Homo sapiens: one gene and its partners. The protein of the gene in region 4 binds, or shares a complex with, the protein of the main gene of each other region. Each region holds a gene or a part of one and is shown on either strand. Other genes may lie near its edges.

Region 1 (3,500 bases), on a different chromosome or scaffold from region 4:
TCAGTCTTAAATAATTCAACTGTAAGGGTTTTTTAGCACTTTTTTTTTTCCAGTCTGTTATATTTATAACCCAACAGTCTCCATTATCATGGCTTGGAATTTCACTCAGTGTTTTAACATGCGGAATGTTAACCCAAACACGAGCCTTAGCAAAAAAGTATCTTCTCAGTTGTGCAGCCTACCACTGTTAATGGCAAATAGGCACATGAGTGAATCACAAAATAACAGTTAACTGAGGGATTCAGCTGACAACTTTTCATACCCAGGATTTGATCTTTCCTGATTCAGATGGCAGAAGCTTGTGTTGTGATTACATAAACAATAAGAAGTCTGGATTTCATCCCTCTAACAACAGATTGACTTTCTGAAAGGGGAGAAAAGGCTTGTCGCTAGGCCACCATTACTCCCGCTAGCACGCAGTTCATAGGCCAACACTCACCTTAAGAAGTACTCCCTTTAGAGGGTGCTCCCAGTTAGAGCACATTTCTTATGCCATTCTATTCCATTCATTCAAGAAGACACTCACTGAGTGTCTATTCTAATACTTTAGAATGATTTCAGCAGTATCTTGGAAGTTTGGGAACCCGCATCAGGAATAGCTCAGGAGAGGATGTTTTGTCTTCCTGCCTGACAGGCATCACCAGCAATCAGAGTAGGGTGCCCTGTGCGTGACCTGACCCTTGTCTGTGTGGCCACCTGTGTGGTGCTGCCCTCTGGCAGCCTGAGCCCACTGGGCAGCAGTGTTGGCAACGTTGCAGAAGGCATCTGAACTCTAGGGCTGTCCTCACTGTTGACTTATTATTTTATTAGATTTATGCAGCAGCCTGCCTCCAAAGAAGAAATTTGGTGTGTTTTTTCATTGGGAAGTAATTCCAGACTGCAGGAAAAAAGCATTTAAAAAAAAAAAAACAAACCTCCACTGAGCGAGAGAAAGGGAGACTCTGATGAGAGACGTAGGAGCCATCAGGCTGTAAATAAATAAAAAGCACCTGGCTGGGCGCCAGCATACACGTCTCTGTCTCTGCTATGACCCAATTCAGGGATTCTCCCTGAGAGGAGGTTTTGAGCCTCTGATTTTATAATTTGGGTTTCTATGAAGCTGGATGTCTTGCCTGTGTACTGATAAGTAATATAGTCTGTCATCTTTTGTCAGCTAGGTAGGGATTGGAGTTTTTGAGAATGGTTTTTCACTCCAAACAGCTCAGAGGACCTGGGAGGGGTGGAAGGTGCACCGAGTGGGCTCTTGGAGGTCTGCTCACACGGCTTCACAGTGACTTCACAGGGTCTGCAGGAGCTCTCCTGAGTGGACCCCAGAGCCCTCTGCTAGGAATGGAGGGGAGTGGTTTGGTTTGAGGGCTTTTGTTTTGTTGTTTTCATTACTATTTTCTTGATAGAAGGGCGGGGGGGAGGGGGGGTGTTGCCCTTTACTCTAGTTCTTGCATTTGAATTGCTAACATCCTCTTTTCCCTTTTTTCTTCCTATTTTGATTTGGTTTCTCATTGCTCAATGTCTTCTCTTCCTGTCTCCTCCTTTCTTTCTCCCTATTTCTGTTTGTTTGCCTCTGTTTTGCTCAGGTGGCTTCGGTGCTGCTCCAGTGTTTGGCAGCCCTCCTACTTTTGGGGGATCCCCTGGGTTTGGAGGGGTGCCAGCATTCGGTTCAGCCCCAGCCTTTACAAGCCCTCTGGGCTCGACGGGAGGCAAAGTGTTCGGAGAGGGCACTGCAGCTGCCAGCGCAGGAGGATTCGGGTAAGCCCCCTGGGGAGGGCCCTTGGGAACCCACACGCCAGCCAAAAAGCACTAGGGGCCTGTACTCTTGCTCTGAAAAGAAATTTGACCATGAGGTGAAGGCCCCTCCCTTGAAATTTGTGAACAACTCCCTCAAGGATTCCTGTACCTCTCCAGGGTAAGACTCATTTCGTTCAAGCCAGGCTTTGTTGAATTCATGGTGGACCTCAGCTGTGTTGCTGTTCCCTGGTATGAGAAATGCTGGTCATCAGAGCCCCTGTTCTCCTGCTGGGGCTAAAGGAAGGCACCAGCCCTGCCTTAACTACTGCTTTGTAGCCAAGAGGTGCCCCGGTGTGGAGCTTCTGTTAGGAAGTCCTCAATGAATGGTTTTCACCAGATTCTTTCCTCTTGGGATTATTCTGTGTTAGACCCGTTGTCCTTGAACAAACAACTCCCTGTGTCCCCTGCTCCCCTGCAGCCCCCCAGAGTGAGTATTCAGTTGCACAGGTCCTCCCGTGGGAAGATCCTGGATGATCAGGGATTTCGAAGCTGCTCTCATTGCCTCGTGTGCGTCTGCACTGGAAAAGGCCATTTTTAGGGAGTCGCTTTTAAGGGCAGAATTTCAGTGTGGTTGCCAAAACCCCAAGGGAAAAAAACCTTCACCACACCACAACATCCCAATTTAAAAAATGTACACGGGATGACTACCAAGTCTCTTGTTCAAAGGAGGTGTCGATGCCTGAAAGGAGTTCTAAAACGCCTCTTGCCGCAGTACTGGGCTCAGCATGAGCTGAAGGTTTGGGGGAGGGGAGATGATTTTGTCTAGGGGAATTGTTGAGATACTTGGATCTGAGTCTTGGCAAGATGACAGCATCTTTATCTTGAAAATAAACTATAGTATGTTCTTACTCACACCCTTCCCCTCCGTGCAAGATGCTGGAGCGCAGCAGCAGGAGTGAGAGGGTTGGCGTGCTGCTTCTCCTGTTTCACGGGAGACTGATGCCTTAGGTTTGCCCTCAGGAAACCCCAAGAATTAAAGTTAAGGAAAGCTTTGAAAGGACAGTTAGAGACCCACTTAGGCTGGTATTCTCAGAGGTCTTAATGGATGCTGTTCTCTGCAGTGATGAACCAGCACACAGTACCACAGAGTTGGTAGAAGGTTTGGGTTGGCTGGGTATCTTGTGAATTGATTTATTTATTTGAAACCAGCTGTTTTCTTTACTAGTAGAAAAGTATATTCTGCCTTGGGGCGGCTCTCACACAAATCCCGATTGGCTGGTTAGTCAGTCCTAAAAAAGGTTAATGCCAGGTCAGTTATTAAATCTCCATAAGAGCCCATTACCTTCTTCCAGGTCCCTGGCCATGAGCCTGTCTCCGACCCTGAAGGGCAGGCTGTTGCTGATGAGGCCCAAGGCAGGAGGAGGAAGGGAGCAGGCCGCTCCTGGGAGAAAGTCCAATGAGAGCAGATCCCTTGGCCACCTTTGTATGGAAAGAGCCTTGACCTCACCATTAAAAGTGAATAGAATGGTGGGAAGGCAGAGTTTTAGATACTTTTTCTTGCTTTGGGGTTGATTCTTGCCCCCAGGTGCTGCCCCTTCTCCCAGAAACCACTGATCCGTTTCCCTCACCTAGTCACCTCCAGACCCCAGAAGCTCTCCCCAACCCAGCCGAGTTCCTCTGCAAACAATTCAAGGGGCTCTGATAGGTCACACAGTGCCACCTTGTGTGCTGGACCATATCTGGAGGGAGAACTGAGTGAGGGGGCACAGGGGATT
Region 2 (3,500 bases), on a different chromosome or scaffold from region 4:
CTCCTAAAACGTTGGTATTACATGCGTGAGCCACCGTGCCCAGCCTTGTACAGTGATTCTTAATAGTTAGGTATATATTCTTTCATATCAGAAATTTATTTATTTATTTTTTTTTTTTGAGATGGAGTTTTGCTCTTATTACCCAGGCTGGAGTGCAGTGGCACGATCTCGGCCCACTGTATCCTCTGATGTGAATTGTTCAAGCAATTCTCCTGCCTCAGCCTCCTGAGTAGCTGGGATTACAGGCATGCACCTCCACGCCCAGCTAATTTTTTTTGTATTTTTAGTAGAAACAGGGTTTCGCCATGTTGGTCAAGCTGGTCTTGAACTCCTGACCTCAAGCGATCCACCCGCCTCGGCCTCACAAAGTGCTGGGATTACAAGCGTTATCCACCACACCCAGCCGAAATTTCTTTCTTTATAAATATATTTTATTATATAAAGATTATGCACGAATGATATATTCTGTAACCTGCTTATTTCCATTTATTTTATTAGAAATGCCTTTCCATTATCTGTATGAATATATTTGTCTTTTCTTTTTTAATGATTGCATAAGTCATTATTGTGAATGTAAGATAACTTGACCAGTTCCTTGTTAGTGGACATTTAGATTATCCGGTATTCCTGTACTCAAAACAGTGCTTCAGTAAAAATCCTTATATACTGGCACAAGTTCTCAGGGCCTCCTGAGGGCTGTATCACGAAAAAGAAAAAAAAAAAAAGAAACCCTTTGTATAGACACCTTTGTACTCCTGTTTTTTTTTTCTTTTGGATAAAATTCTAGTGTTTTTTATTATTATTATTATTTATAAAGCATTTTTTAACATTTTGTTGATTGTAATCTTAAAAATCTAACATTTTTTTCAGTTTTTAATCTTAAAATTAACCAATTATTTGATTCCATATAGGAGAGTATACAATAGAGATAGTAATTATCTGTTTCACAGTACTGCTGTAGTAAGTATTAAGTGAATTTTTAATACATGGAACTATCCAGAACAGTGCCAGGCACTTAGTAAAGGCTCGGTATTAGTTAGCTATTATCATTGTTATTACTACTACAAGAGGCTAAGGTATTATTTCTTTTCCTTTGCAGATTTAGTTTCCTAAGCAAACCTGTTGATGAGAATCACCAGCAGGATGGAGATGAAGATTCCCTTGTTTCACATTTTTATACTAACCCTATTGCCAAACCTATTCCTCAAACCCCAGAAAGTGCTGGAAATAAACACAGCAACAGCAACAGTGTGGATGATACCATTGTTGCATTAAACATGCGTGCTGCTTTGCGAAATGGGCTGGAAGGAAGCAGTGAAGAAACGTCTTTTCATGATGAGTCACTTCAGGATGACCGAGAAGAAATAGAAAATAATTCTTACCATATGCACCCAGCAGGTCAGGTTCAGATTGGTGCATGTTTAATCTCTTACCAGTCATTCGAGATGACTTGCTTGTTGCAGATATTCAACATATGGAAGTCAGCTGTTTGGCATTTTAAGTATTATTTTATGTGATCCCACATAGGAGAGCTTAATATTTAAACAGTTTTATGCTTTAGTTGATTCAGAGTTCACATACTCTTTGGACCTTAGAGTATGAAAATTGATACATCTTTAATTATCCTGGTGTAGTCTAAAGAACCCAAATTTTATAGCCAAAGAGACTATCCTGATATTTTCCCTGGCTTTGTAAACTCGGATAGATTGCTTATTGTTTTTTGTTTGTTTGTTTGTTTTTTCTTGAGACAGTGTCGCTCTGTCGCCCAGGCTGGAGTGCAGTGTCGCAGTCTTGGCTCACTGCAACCTCAACCTCCAGGGATCAGGACCTCTCATCTCAGCCACCCGAGTAGCTGGCACTACAGGCACATGATACCACACCCCGTTAAGTTTTGCATCTTTTGTTTTGCCATGTTTCCTGGGCTGGTCTCAAAATCCTGGGCTCAAGTGATCCTCCTATCTTGGCCTCCCAAAGTGCTAGGATTACAGGCATGAGCCACCATGCCCAGCCCATTTTGGGTGTTTTGTGGTATTCTTGAAGTGTCTCCAAAATTTATATTTAGTTTTCTTATTGCCATTATATATATATATATATTTGGTTACTTAGTATCATAAGGAAAGAAGTTTATACTTTGACAGTAAGAATCCCAGGTAGCCTGGGTGTGGTGGCTCAGCACTTTGGCAGGCTTAGGTGGGAGGATCGTTTGAACCCAGAAGTTTGAAATCAGTCTGGGCAACATAGCAAGACCTGATATCTACAATAAACTTAAAAGTAATTAGCCAGGTGTGGTGGCATGTACCTGTAGTTGCAGCTACTACGGAAGCTGAGGTGGGAGGATCACTTGAACCCAGGATTCAAGGTTGCAGTGAGCTATGATTATGCCACTGAACTCCAGCCTGGGTTGACAGACCAAGATCCTGTCTCCTAAAAAAAAAAAAAAAAAAAAAAAGAATTCCAGGTGCTTAATCTGTATTTGTGTATGTATCTCTACATGAATTTATTATGCTACTATATATCTTTTTAATAGGAAGTTTTATATTCTAGTTTTTTCATTTACCTTGTTTGCTGCCACCCAATTTAGAGTTCCCTTCCCAAGAAGCAAGTATACAAGTGGGTGTTGCTGGAGGCTGGAGTTTGGTCTGATGTTGGCCTGAAATACTTTTCTCTCAGAGAGCAAGTTAGCCTTATATCTGACTACAAGTAGGACAAGGAGTGAATAGAGCAAGCAAGCACACCAGCGTTCCACTACTTTCCTTGAGTTTTTCAGCGCTCTGCTTTTTTTATTTTGGTATTTTTTTTTCTATTTTAATTTATTCTTTCTTTCTTCTTTTCTTCCTTCCTCCCTCCCTCCCTTCCTTCCGAGTTTCACTCTTGGTTGCCCAGGCTGGAGTGCAGTGGTGTGATCTCAGCTCACTGCATCCTCTGCCTCCCAGGTTCAAGCGATTCTCCTTCCTCAACCTCCCGAGTAGCTGGGATTACAAGCACCCGCCACCATGCCCAGCTAATTTTTGTATTTTTGGTAGATAATGGATTTTTGCCATGTTAGCCAGGCTTGTCTTGGACTCCTGGCCTCAAGTGATTTACTCACCCCGGCCTCCCAAAGTCCTTGGATTACAGGCATGAGCCACCTTGCCTGGCTGGATTTTTCATCTTTCTTTTAGCTCTTTATTTGGGAGTGTAAATTTGAAAAATAAAAGAGGTTTATGCAAAACAGGCAATGAAACAAGAAGAATTGGGTTTGGAGTTTTATATCTACTTCTATTGTTAAATTACAGTATAAGCCAACACAAGTTATTTCCACTGTAGGTTTTGGTATCCTTGTGTGTAAAATAAAATAAAAAGCTGATTAAGCTTTTCTCAGAGTATTTTATGAGATACCTTTTATAGTCCGGGATGTTAATGGGTGTCCTTTGAAAATAATGTTCTGTGGTTAAATCTGGAAAAACACGAGGTTAAGCAGAGTTTAATAGGCTATTTACTGTAAGTTTTAGACTCTTTGA
Region 3 (3,500 bases), on a different chromosome or scaffold from region 4:
TCTGGACTTAAGTCACACTCTCTAGAGGAGGACATGGAGTGCTTGATATTTCACACACAAATCTTACATCTTCTAAGGCTGAGGTTGACTTTCACATTCAAATAAAAATGTGAAAATGAATCGTGACTCTGCTATATGGAATATTATATCTAAATAAAAGTAACTCCCAAAGGCTTTGTTTCCTGGCTCATTTTGGGTAGATTTTTAATTAATTAAGGTCAATTTAACCAAATAATGAATATCTACATAGCCTCTCATTCCCTGGCCCAAGAGCTAGTGACGGTATTTCCCATTACACAAATAAAAATGTAAACAAAATTTCAAAGAAAAAAAAAAAGAAAATAAAAGAATGTTGAAAAGAAATACAAATCAAAGAAATTTATTGGCGTTGACAAAAATACATAATACAGAAACCAAAACAAAACACAACAGAAACAAAACCAGAAACCCCAGCCTAGTGGGCCCATGTGCCTGATGTACTGACAGTGTGCCGACCCAGACTCCCACAAAGCATGGCACTTAATTCATGAGGACCTCCATCTGCACCAGCCTCGCATTGGTGTCCCCAGACGTTCGGTATGGTATCATTCCAGCAAAGGTAATCAGAGTGCGGGCTTGACTTCGGAGTTGCTGAGAGAGAAGGGAAGGAAGGGAAGGAAATCGGTTAACTTTCGAGTCAGGGCACTATTCCATATTCTTCCATCCTCTATTCCATGTTCTTCCATCCTCTACCCCAGCGTGTCAGGGACAGATCCCTGATGGGTGGATGACAGTCATACCCTCCTCTGTCACATTCCTTCAACATAACACAAAGTTAACAAAGCTCGTCCCCCGAGGCCTCTGTTCCACAGGCATCCAAACCCATCTATTAAGCAAAAAGCAGATGGGTTTGCCAGGCAAGCCGCCTCGCCCCAACACATTTGGCTAGCTTTTGACACAGCCCTGAGCTTCAGAACTGCCTGCTCCAATCTTCTGAGCCTCTCTCTCTGGCTGGTTTCTGTCCATCTGCTTTCACAGGGATCTGACTCTCCAGAGCCCCATGAAGCCCTTGTGACACCGGAGGCAAGGGCTGTGACTGTGCAGTCCCAATCCAGCTCTCTTCCTCCCATGCATCTTTCCTCTTCCTTCCTTTCATTCCTCCTGTTTCTCCCTTCCCGACATACATGCTTAGCCCTTCTTTCCCCAGGCAACAGTATTTATGGAATTCCTGGATTGTTCAGGATGGAAAAAGGTGGCCCTACAAATTTAAACCAAATCTGGACTAGAAAGGGAGAAATCTACCACCAACACCTTTCTGGACTAGTAACAAGAATTTAAAGAAACACTGAGGAGTCATCTACTAGGCTTACTTAAGGACCATTCCAGAAGAAAACGGAAAAGCAAATGCTTTTTACCTGATGTGTAAAACAAACTAGCGAGTGTATGTCCTTATTGATGTCCAAACAAAAAGAAATCTGACTTTGTGATGTGAATATCCACTGTATTTTCTTTAGAAGTGAATAAAAGGGCTCTCGTTAAATGAGCTCTAGGGATGTTCAAGTAAAAGGATTCACCCCTTTACTAGGCAGCATCTCACTTTAAACCATGAAACCAAGGACGTCAGTGGGCTTGCAGACTTCTTGGGCACGCAGCTTTTATAGATAACCTTTTACTTAATCCTATCCCTCCCTACCTTTCAGAAAAAGAAAGAAAAAGGAGAGTGGTGGGCAAAAGGAAGGCAGGAGAATGATCTTCAGACATGAGACATGGCCTGCCAGGGGACCAGCTCTTCTCAGTGGGCAAGCCCCACTGAACTGTAAGCAGCACACAGAGCACCAAGAAGTATCCACCATCTCAATACTCACATTCACAAACATCACTGCCCTGGGTTTCTATCATCAAAAAAGATTCCTGCCAAATGGTGGGCACCATGAACCCACCGCTGGCACATCTGACATTTAGACTCCTATCTGTCCGGGGTAGGCAGAAGACCAGCAAATGCTCTGGTGCACACCTGGATGGGCTGACCGCTTCAGTGGACCACTCTTGAGCACTGTTACCCACATTCCTAAAGGTGGAAATTTCCGCCATCTTTCACTAAGCACAAGTTTTGTCAACAACCATGCCTGTGGGGTCACAGTGGAAAGAGCTCACAGACATCTTGGAGGCAGAAGACAGATCAAGGCTTCTTGGCTGCCAAAACCAGGTCTGATGTTAGACACTGAGATGCTGAGAGTCTCATCAAAAATTAAGTGGAAAGGTTAAAGGAAAGGTAATTTTAAAAAACACTATTGTGGGGCCGGGAACGGTGGCTCACATCTGTAATCCTAGCACTTTGGGAGGCCGAGGTTGGGGGATCTCTTGAGCTCAGGAGTTCGAGACCAGTCTGGGCAACATGGTAAAATTCCATCTCTATATAAAGTACAAAACTCCGCTGGGTGTGGTGGTGCGTACCTGTAGTCCCAGCTACTTGGGAGGGTGAGGTGGGAGGGTGGCTTGAGCCCAAGAGGTAGAGGTTGCAGTGAGCTGAGATCGTGTCATTGCATTCCAGCCTGGGCAACAGAGCCAGGCCCTGCCTCAAAAAAAAAAAAAAAGCAAACACCATTGGACTGTCCCCTTATGGTTTAACTGGGTCAAAAAATACCTTTGCTCTTTTTTTTTGTAATCAGACAACATATGCTGTGAGCCCCAGGGTTCTAGCTACCTGGACTCCACTTGACCCATGCACTGCTGGAGGTCCCACAGGCAGCAGAAAGGGCACAGGTGTCAGAGAGACCCAGCCTCCAGACATGGCCCCTTCACCTACCTGCCACCTGAGGGCAGTTGCTTCCCAACTCCACAGCTCAGTTTCCTCAGCTGTGAGAGGGGATAAGATGCTGTCCTAGTTACCTCTCTAGGGTCACTGTGAACACAGGTGACAGGAGAAACAAGGGTTCACATTAATGTGTTGATCAAAAATAAAGTATGGTTTTAATAAAAGTGTTCACTAATGAGCTAGGACTAACAAAATAAACTTATCTTTTAAAATGTGCAGGAAGTTCTTATGGAGTCAACTAGAAATTAGCATTCTGTTTGATTTGTTAAAAGGTAAGATTTGCAGACCTAGTACATCTTTTTATTTTTTTAAGCTTGAGAAGAGCAGCAATCCCTTTAATATTTGATTTCCTCTGGGAGCCTCCTAACACGAGATTTATCCAGCTGCCAGGTACTGAGGAGAAAGAGCAGTTTTGGGTCATGTGGTCTCATAAGAGCGCAACGGATTCCAAACCAGAAAGGTGGTGCTTAGCAATGTTTCTCGCGAATGCTGGGATCTTACAGAGTCGCGGTCCTCGATGACTCGCTGGGGCCTGGATGACGAGGATGGACTTGTCCCCTTGAGCCTCTTAAACTGTGTGAACAAGATGTTCATGGTGGCAAGAAGCACTTCTGAGAGGTTGTGCCTGATCTACATAGAGAGAAAAACAGAGTAAAGAAAAAGAACCAAGCCTTTGGGGCCAACCACAGATGGAGGGAGGGTGGGC
Region 4 (3,500 bases):
TAAAAAAGGTTAACATTTAAAATATGGATTTGATTTTTCTAATTTCAGGTTTATCTCGGGGTTTGGGGATCTCATTTGACATTTTATTGTCAGACTAAAAGTTGACAGTCACAGCTTTAATTCTCATCTAATATTTAGTTGATTTCACAAATGAATGCCTTTGTGATTATGCAGGTTTATTAAAATATATATGTTTTTAAACTGTAGTGACAGACTGGATATTGGAAAGAGATCCCCATGAAGAAATACTCAAGGCATTTAAACTATTTGATGATGATGATTCAGGTAAAATAAGCTTGAGGAATTTGCGACGTGTTGCTAGAGAATTGGGTGAAAACATGAGTGATGAAGAACTTCGAGCTATGATAGAAGAATTTGACAAAGATGGTGATGGAGAAAGTAAGTTTTAAGTGAAACGTATTTTCCAGGTTTTCCTGATGCTACACATGTAATACATTTTTCTAAAACCAAATGACTTGCAAGACTTTTTTGTAAACTTAACTGCTTCTTGTAATGGACCTTCTGTCTAAATAATTCACATATTCAATTTAGAATGAAGCAGATCTCTAAAACCAATTATACTTCAAGAAGGTCCTTCACTTTTCTCTGAAGGTGAAACCACCAAAATTTCAGCCTTTCAATATAATTTCAGTCTTTAATGGCTTCTCCCTCAACCTACATGCTAAGTTCTAAGTTCTATTGATTTTCCCCTTCAAATGTTTTGAATCTGTTTTTATCTTTGTCCATTGTGGCTGTCCTAGTTCAGGCCCTAATTTCTAGTTAGGAATGTTATAATGGCCTCATTTATTCTTGCCTTGGCTGCCTACTGGGTGCAGTGTCCTGCGTGTTGACTGGTGCTACACAATGAAAAAGGCAGATGTGGTTCTTGCTTTCACTTTGCAGTCTCTTGTAGTGTCCTAATTGCCCTTTCGGCATATAAAAGTCTCTAATCTCTTCTTCAGTCTCTTGGTATCATTCTTTTCCTAAAATATACATTTGATAATGCCATTTCTGTGTTTAGACACTTGAAACGATTCTTCAGTGCCTACAGAGTAAAGTTCAAAGCCTTCTATGATCTATCCCACCTTGAGTAACTGATTTTACTTTCCAGTGTATTCTTTCACTTTTCTTCTTTAACCCTCACCTCCTGTATGTACACATTTTGTCAACATATGCTATCCTGAAAACACATTTTTATGCTATTCGTTTCATCCTGCTGTTTCTTAATCTTAGAATGCTCTAATTGTTAATTTCTGCCTGCTAAAATGTGATTCATTCTCTCAGGTAAATATTAAACACCATCTTTTTCCCAAAAGCTTCCCATAACGCTCTATGAATCATGAGACTTCCATTGAAGGCCTATAGCATTTAGAGAAACAAATTGTTTTGATACTTTCATACACTTAATATGGAATCTTTTGGCTGGAAACTAAGTTTTGTTGAGATAAAAACCACTTTATTTGTATGTTAAACTGCTAAAGATTAGACCTTGCTGTCTTTTTTGTGGACTTTAGTGTTCTTCTCTCTTTGTGACTTTTTCATGCTTTTCAGTATCTAAGAGCAATGAAATTTTAAAAATATTGGGTATATAGAATAATAAACATGGTGAATGTGAAGTTAAAGGTAAATAAGATGTACTACAAGATAGACATAAAGCTGTGGTAATGATACAGAAAGAGTCACTTCCCCCTGCCCCCTCAACAGCATATATAAAATAAAACACAGCACATCTTTTGGAAAAAATGAAAGGAACGTTTTGAAAAGCCAGAATGGATAATCTTTTAAATAATGATGATGTTTTTTAACATTTATTTAGCAGCTACTATATTGGATATTAGCATTAATTATGTCACTTAATTTCCATAATAACTTGTAAAGTAGATATAGTATTATACCTATACATGTGTATAATAGATGCATATATAGAGATGAGGAAGCTAAAGCTTTGAGAGATTATTAATCTGCCCAGGTTATCACAAAGCTAATACTGTACATGGTAGAGCCAGAACTCAAAATCAAATCTCCAAAATGGCAAAGAATGTGCTTTTAAACGTAATATTGTATTGCCTTTCGGGCTATGAAGTAAAATATTAACTAGACTTCTATGTTTATGGAGTTTTAAAAATTACATGCTATTATAGGAAGCAGTGTATTAGCAACATACTCAGTTGGAACTTCCAATTCTAAGATTTGCTTTTCCCCTTCAAAGCCAGATGGTCTCTAAGGTACTTAATCTACTTAGTTCTGTAAAATTCTTATTGTTAGCAACTTGTAATAAGATTTGCTCTATGAAATGGTTGATGTATGAAAAATTTTGTTAAAGAAGGCAGTATAAAAGGAAACAAAGTGTCATATTTTCTTGATTCAATAAATGTTTTACCAAAGCTTATTTTAAGCTAGGCATTGTGGTAGATTTATTAGATATAGGAACTTGATATAAGATATTGTTAATAGAGAAGGTTATAAAATCAAATGCACAGAGATATAGAAGATTGTCTTTTAATTGTCTACAAGACAATTAAAGTAAAGTAGCTAGTTTAATTTCCTGAGCCACTTTCTAATTTTTACTTTCTTGGGTTTAAGTAGTGTGTTTTTAGGTATGAATCATGGAATTCAGTTGTCCCTTGATAAGCACAGGGGATTGGTTCCAAGTCGCTTAAGGATGCCAGAATCTATGGTGCTCAAGTCCCTTGTATAAAATGGCATAGTATTTTCATATAACTTTCACATATCCTCTTGTATACGTTAAATCATCTCTAGATTACTTATAATACCTAATACAATGTAAATGCTATGTAAATTGTTATACTTTATTTTATTTGTATTATTTTTTATTGTGTTATTTTCCCAAATATTTTTCATCTGCAGTTGGTTGAATCTGCAGATGTGAGGAACCTGTGGTTACAGAAGGCTGACCGTATTTTAAATACTTTTGAAATGCTATTATAGTTTAAAGTTTTTGTATATAAACAATATAAAAATTAAGTGTTTTGTGGTTTTCAAACTTATATATGAAACTTAAAATTTGCAGTTTGAGTATTGAAATTTTACAGATCAAGAAAAAGTTCTAGATCTTTAAGTAACAAGTACTTTTTGGATTTTGAATATTTTAATCATGGATGTATTACACTGTTAAAATGATTTGTAATCAAATCATTCTAAGGCTGTTTTATGTTTTTTCTCTTAATACAGTTCTTAAGAACATACTCTTGCTTCCTATTTGGTCTAGATGCCTCAGTCTAAATCGGGAGTTCTTCAGTGAAGGTGCACACTGGCTAAACTGATTAATAATTTTATATATTTGAACTGTATTTATTGGAAAGAGAGAGGGATCATAGCTTTCCTAAGATATTCAGACATGGCTATTTAACTGCAAAGGTTAAAGATCACTACATCAATTTGTAAGATTCTTGAAAGTAGTTTGGAGTATTACAGATTTTGTATTACGTTCTTACCATGTTTGTCATAGTGTTTTGTAGATGTTAAATACTGATTGCATG

The links.
Region 1: CETN3 (region 4) and NUP214 share a complex: the UniProt entries of both Homo sapiens proteins name them as parts of the nuclear pore complex.
Region 2: CETN3 (region 4) and NUP98 share a complex: the UniProt entries of both Homo sapiens proteins name them as parts of the nuclear pore complex.
Region 3: CETN3 (region 4) and NUP93 share a complex: the UniProt entries of both Homo sapiens proteins name them as parts of the nuclear pore complex.

Annotation. Positions count from the first base shown.
Region 1 is NC_000009.12:131,226,586-131,230,085, forward strand, and holds part of NUP214 (nuclear pore complex protein Nup214), read left to right. Parts: intron 1-1,574; coding exon 1,575-1,746; intron 1,747-3,500. UniProt on the Homo sapiens protein: Part of the nuclear pore complex. Has a critical role in nucleocytoplasmic transport.
Region 2 is NC_000011.10:3,721,055-3,724,554, reverse strand, and holds part of NUP98 (nuclear pore complex protein Nup98-Nup96 isoform 1 precursor), read left to right. Parts: intron 1-1,099; coding exon 1,100-1,398; intron 1,399-3,500. UniProt on the Homo sapiens protein: Plays a role in the nuclear pore complex (NPC) assembly and/or maintenance. NUP98 and NUP96 are involved in the bidirectional transport across the NPC. May anchor NUP153 and TPR to the NPC.
Region 3 is NC_000016.10:56,841,629-56,845,128, reverse strand, and holds part of NUP93 (nuclear pore complex protein Nup93), read right to left. Parts: intron 3,425-3,500; coding exon 3,296-3,424; intron 631-3,295; coding exon 520-630; 3' UTR 1-519. UniProt on the Homo sapiens protein: Plays a role in the nuclear pore complex (NPC) assembly and/or maintenance. May anchor nucleoporins, but not NUP153 and TPR, to the NPC. During renal development, regulates podocyte migration and proliferation through SMAD4 signaling.
Region 4 is NC_000005.10:90,396,257-90,399,756, reverse strand, and holds part of CETN3 (centrin-3), read left to right. Parts: intron 1-207; coding exon 208-399; intron 400-3,192; coding exon of another isoform or gene 3,193-3,264; intron 3,265-3,500. UniProt on the Homo sapiens protein: Plays a fundamental role in microtubule-organizing center structure and function. As a component of the TREX-2 complex, involved in the export of mRNAs to the cytoplasm through the nuclear pores.